Regions from separate parts of the Homo sapiens genome. Here region 2 is linked to region 1. Evidence: fine-mapped expression QTL. A gene starts in region 1. The other region holds a variant in brackets. All regions are shown on one strand. Distances are from middle to middle.

Region 1 (2,916 bases):
TTTCCCGAACACCACGGTCTCCTACGCCTCTGTGCTTCTGCACATGCCATGGCGTCCTTCTATATGCCTGCCCAGCAAACCTTCTCATCCTTCAAGTCTCTGCTCCTGAAATCTTCCTGGATTTCTCCAGTCTCTGGCAGTGCTTCAATGTTGCCACTGCACTCTGTACATACCTTCAATTATCTTGTACAGTGATCAGTTATTTGCATGTCTTTGACCAACAGACTGTAAGTTCCTTGATGGTCAGGCATTGTCTTTTCATCCTTAGATTCCCAGCAGAATTACCAAACACAGAAGTAGACATCAAAGAAGTATTTCTTGAATGAATGAAATTTTAAAAATCATTAAATCTAAAAGTGAATTATGTTTGGTTCCTAAATTCTCTGCTTTGCCCAGCTGTCAAGACCCCCTTACCCCTTTCCCAAGTTGGGACACACTTCTGGCAGCTATGTTCCCAGCTGGACTAGCAGGGGCAGAGGCACTGGTTTATTCTAATTGTCTCTTCGCTGATACAACAAGGTGCTAGTTGGCCAGAGCCCCAAATTATACATTAGCAAATCCTGACTGACAACAGCGTGAAACCAGCAGGACAAGTTTTAAGAAGTTGCAAAGGTTAAGACGTGAAGGACAACGTGGGAGGAGGACCGGGCAGAAAGGGATTCAGGACGAGATCCATCTCACCCTCCGTGGAGGGAAAACCGAATGATTTCTACTGAGTTTCCCTAGTTCCTGTAATCTGCTTTCAAAAACTCAGAACTAAAAAGGAAACAAAAAACTAACACGTAAACCCCTCCTCCTTCCTACGGCTCTGACATTTCCTCTGCGTAGGATTTCGTTGCTCCAAACCCACCAGGCCTAAGCCATGTAATCCGACGCGATCCGTCGGCTTGATGACTCACCACTGGAAAGCGCTCCCTGCAATCCCTCACAGTTCAGACAACTAAGTCCGAGATGGAAGGCAACGTGTGACTCACGGCACACTCCTTGTAACGCCCGGGCGCCGTCCATTCGCAACATCAGTCCCTGCACATTAAATGCGGAAGGGCCCTTCAAGTTCATTCATTCATTCATTCCACAAACTTTCGTGGTGATTTTTGCCCGCTTTGAGTATGGGCGGGAGGAGGGAAGAGGAGCTGACCAGACCCAAAAAGGGGCGACACACGCCGGGGAGGGACGCCACGCAGGCCGCGGGCGGACTCCCGGGCGGCGGGGACGCGCGGGGACCCGGCCGCGGGACGAGGGAGGCCGGCGGCTGGACACTACCTGCGGGAGAGCGAGTGAGGTTCTGGCCCTCCGAGTTGACCGCCTGCAGGTAGAAATAGCGGACCGGCAGGACGACGGCCGCCTGCAGCCCGGGCCCCCACACCAGGCTCCGCGGCGCGCTGACCAGCACCTCCGGGGCCCCCGCGGCCACCAGCAGGGCGAGGCGCAGCTGCAGCAGCAGGGCCCGCGGGAGGCGGCGCATGGTCGGCGGGGCACAACTGCGGTCCAGCTCCGCGGCGGCGAGGAGGGGCCGGCAGCGCCGCGGACCGGGCGGGGACTGGGGCCCACCGCGGGGCGGGTCTTTCGGGCGGGAAAGATTGCGGCGCAGGCTCCCTTTCCCGCCCGCTGTCCCGCCTCGTCTCCCTCGGGCGGGAACGCGAGCCAGTGCCGCAATCACCCACTGCGCGCCCTGTAGGGGTCGACGATGGGTGCGCCCCTTCCTCCCCGCAGCCCCATAGGCCCCGTGGAGGAAAGGGGTGGAGAGGCCCGCCCAGAGACCGAGGCTGCGAGTGTGCGCTGGCTGTTGATTGCCAAGGCTTCAGGCACGCCTGGCCTCCACTTCCAGTGGTCTTTCCCTTTCTTTTTCTTCCTTCCTTTCCTTCTTTCTTCTCTTTTCTTTCTCTGTTTTTATACAGACAAGGGGGCTGGCTCTGTCGCCTAGGCTGGAGTGCAATGGCGCGACCACAGCTCACTGCAGCCTGGAACTCGTGGGCTCAGGAGATCCTCCCGCCTCAGCCTCCCGAGTAGCTGGGACTGACTGTAGGCACACGACACCACGCTGGCTAATTTAATTTATTATTATTATTATTATTATTATTATTATTATTATTATTACTATTACTATTTGTAGAGACGGGGTCTCCCTATGTTGCCCAAGGTGGTCTTGAACTCCTGGTTTCAAGCAATCCGCCCGCCTCGGCTTCCCAAAGTGCCGGGATTACAGGCATGAGCCACCGGGTCCGCCGCTCAGGTGTTTTTAAAGGACGTAGACCCGGTGGTGATTGTTGTGGGACGATGAAAGGGTCCGGCCCCAAGATCGATGTAGTTTAGGGAAATATCTTTTCCCAAGGAATGTCTCCGAGTTTACAAGATGAGCGCCAAGGTCACGCCCCCCGCCCTCCCTCACAGCCCTCTGTTCACAGCAGCACCGTTCTCTTGTGGCCGGTTTTGTTGCTTTTCTGCTTAGCAGCCTCCCTCACAGAACCGTGATCCCCCCACCCCACACATCCCTTTCCCCGCTTCCTCCCGCACTCCTCTTCTTCCAGCAGGTGTTTACAGAACATCCACGGAGTTTGGGCCAAGCCCAGAGTGAGGAGCTGGGCACTGGGGTGGCAGAAGACCAGGCCTTGCCTTGAGCCCTTGTGCGAGCTTTACCTCAAAGCCTCTGTAATCGAAGTGGGAGAAGGGGTGGTGGTGCGTGGTTGGTCTCAGCCACCTCCACCACTCCTCAGAAGATGAACGCTGGATCCAGGAAGAGATTGTCAAGGTTACTATCTGCCTCTCTTTTTTGATCATTTTATCCAATTTGTTAATGGATACAAATTTGTTAATGGATTGTTAATAGATCTGAATTTATTTAAAGCCAATAAAGATTCTCCTCTGGCTGAATGATCCAGAAGGAACTCACACCCCAGAATGGACACAGGATTTCTG
Region 2 (2,916 bases), 260 kb before region 1:
TGGAGTTTTCCAATCCATGAACACTGTATATCTCTCCATTTACTTAGGTTTTTTTTTTTTTTTTTTTTTTTTTGCTTCTTTGTTTGTTTTTTTGAGACAGAGTCTCCCTCTGTTGCCCAGGCTGGAGTGCAGTGGCACGATCTCACCTCACTGCAACCTCCACCTCCTAGGTTCAAGCGATTCTCCTGCCTCAGCCTCCTGAGTAGCTGGGATTACAGGCATGTGCCACCACACCCAGCTAATTTTTGTATTTTTAGTAGAGACAGGGTTTCCTCATGTTGGCCAGGCTGGTCTCGAATTCCTGACCTCAGGTGATCCACCTGCCTCAGCCTCCCAAAGTGCTGGGTTTATAGACTTGAGCCACCGCGTCTGGCCACTTGTCTTTTTTGATTTCTTTCATTAGTGTTTTATAATTGTCAGCATATAGATTTTTTGTTGTAAATTGACAATTTTTTTTCTTTAATTTTATATATTAAAAAAAATAGAGACAGGATCTCACTGTGTTGCCTAGGCTGGTCTCAAACTCCTGGGCTCAAGTGATACCCTTCCCTTGACCTCCCAAAGTGTTGGGATTATAGGCATGAGCCAACATGCCCAGCTGCAAATTGACATTTATTTATAATTGTATAAACATAAAGATTTTGTATATGTTTTGTTAGATTTATACTGCAGTAGTTTGTAATTGCATTGTTTTTAACATTTTGATTTTCAAATTGTTCAATGCACAAAAATTATACAGAAGTCCAGTTAATTTTTGTATAGTGACCTTGTATTTTGGGACCTTGCTAAAATCACTTACTAAATCTAGTAGCTTTCTTTGAATGTTCTTTTGGATTTTCTTTGTAGACAAACATGTCTTCTGTAAGCAGTAATTTTTTTTTCTTTCTTTCTGAGCCATGTGGCTTTTATTTTATTTTTGTGCTTTATTACATTGGCTAGGACCTCCAGTGTGATTTATTGTGGTAAAATATATATAACATTTATAATTTTAACTTTTTTAAGTGTACAGTTGTGTAGTATTAAGTGCATTCATATTGTTGTGTAATCATCTCCACCATCCATCTCCAGAACTTTTTTTTCTATACTCAGTAAACAATGATTTACCATTTTCCCCTCCCCTATCCCCTGGCAGCTACCATTCTACTTTCTCTCTCTATGAATTTGGCTATTTGGGGTACTTCATTTTTATGGATTGAATGTTGTGTCCCACCAATTATGTTGAAATCTAACTCCCAAAGGGATGGTATTTGGAGGTGTGGGATTTAGGAGGTAATTAGGTCCTGTGGGTCCAGCCTTCATGGATGGGATTAATGCCCTTATGAAAAGAGGCCAGAGAGCTAACTTGCTGTCTTTCTGCCATGTGAAGATACAGTTCAAAGTCAGTAGTCTGCAGCCCCAAAGAGGGCCCTCACCAGAAACCCACAATGCTGGCACCTGAGCTGCTTTCAGCCTCCAAAATTGAGAGAAATAAATTTCTGTGGTTTCTAAGCCACCTAACCTATAATACTTTGTTATAGCAGCCTGAAGTAGAGGACTCCT[A/G]TAAGTATTTGTCCTTTTGCAACCTGCTTATTACACTTACCAAAATGTCTTTGAGGCTCATCAGTGTTACAGCTTTTGTCAGAATTTCACCCTTATTAAAAACTGAACACTATTCTGTTCTGTGTATATGCCACATTTTGTTAATTCATTCGTCCATTGGTGGACATGGGTTGTTTCTACCTTCTGATTATTGTGAATAATGCTGCCGTGAACATGAGTATACATCTCCTGAGTTTCCTGCTTTCAGTCTTTTGATTATATACCCAGAAGTAGAATTGCTAGATCATGTGGTAATTCTATATTTAATTTTTTAAGGAACCAACATCCTGTTTTACACAGGAGCTACGCCATTTTACATTCTCACCAGCAGCCCACAAGGGTTCCAGTTTCTCTACATTCTCACTAGCACAACTAATAGAAAATGAGGATTCCTCTTCTAGGCCTTGAAAGTGCTGCATAATTTTGCTTCTTCCTACCTGTCTAACTTAACTAAAGCGCTTCTAATTTCTGTGCTCAAGCTACACTGTCAATTATTCAGTTTCTCAAACCTAGTGGTTTCCATTTTTTTAAATTGACTTTTATCTTTTAGAGGAATTTTAAATTTACAGCAAAACGGAGTGGAAAGTCCACTGGACACACACAGCATGCCCTACTGTCAACATCTTGCACCAGTGGTACATTTGTTACCATCAGTAAACCTATGCTGGGACACATCATTATTATCCAGAGTCCAAGGTTCACTTTTGGTGGTACATATGCTATGGATTTTGACAAGTGTTTTGACATTTTTAAAGATCTTTTTCTGTATCTAATGAGATGGTCATATTTTTTTTTCCTCTGGGAGAGAATGGTAACAATTTTTCACTATTACAGAATCATACAGAATACTTTCACTGTCAGAAAAATCCTCTGTGCTTCACCTTTTCATCTCTTCCTTCTTGTAAACTGTGGGAACCATGGATCTTTTTGCTATCTCCATGGTTTAGCCTTTTCCAGCATGTCATATACAGTTGTGCGTCTCTTAACAATGTGGATATGTTCTGAGAAATACATCATTAGGCAATTTCTTTGTTGCGTGAACGTCATAGGGTGTATTTATACAAACTTAGATGGTATAACACTACGCACCTAAGCTATATGGTATTACTGCTCCTGCACTACAAACCTGTGCAGCATGTTACTATACTGAATACTGTAGGCAGCTGTAACACAATGGCAAGTATTTGTGTCTCTAAACATATATAAACATAGAGGAGGTACAGTAAAAGTATAGTATAAAGGATAAAACATGGTACACCTGTCTAGGGCACTTAACCATGAATGGAGCTTGCAGGACTGGAAGTTGCTCTGGGTATGTAAATGTGTGGTAATGTAAAG

The links. PIP is the estimated chance that this variant, and not a neighbour inherited with it, causes the effect.
Region 2: its variant is fine-mapped to the expression of POGLUT3 in whole blood (TOPMed, PIP 0.98).

What each region holds. Positions count from the first base shown.
Region 1 is chr11:108,496,902-108,499,817 of GRCh38, forward strand. It overlaps POGLUT3 (protein O-glucosyltransferase 3), which reads right to left and starts at 1,483. Exons shown (of 8, transcript NM_153705.5): 1 at 1,264-1,483. The coding sequence starts at 1,465. It overlaps LOC112267909 (a long non-coding RNA gene), which reads left to right and starts at 2,160. Exons shown (of 3, transcript XR_007062880.1): 1 at 2,160-2,749. RefSeq lists a silencer at 1,116-1,635.
Region 2 is chr11:108,237,852-108,240,767 of GRCh38, forward strand. The region is part of intron 5 of ATM (ATM serine/threonine kinase); the gene reads left to right. Among named protein-coding and RNA genes, the nearest start is that of ATM, 16 kb to the left of the region's middle. The variant A/G (reference allele first, on the strand shown) is at 1,540.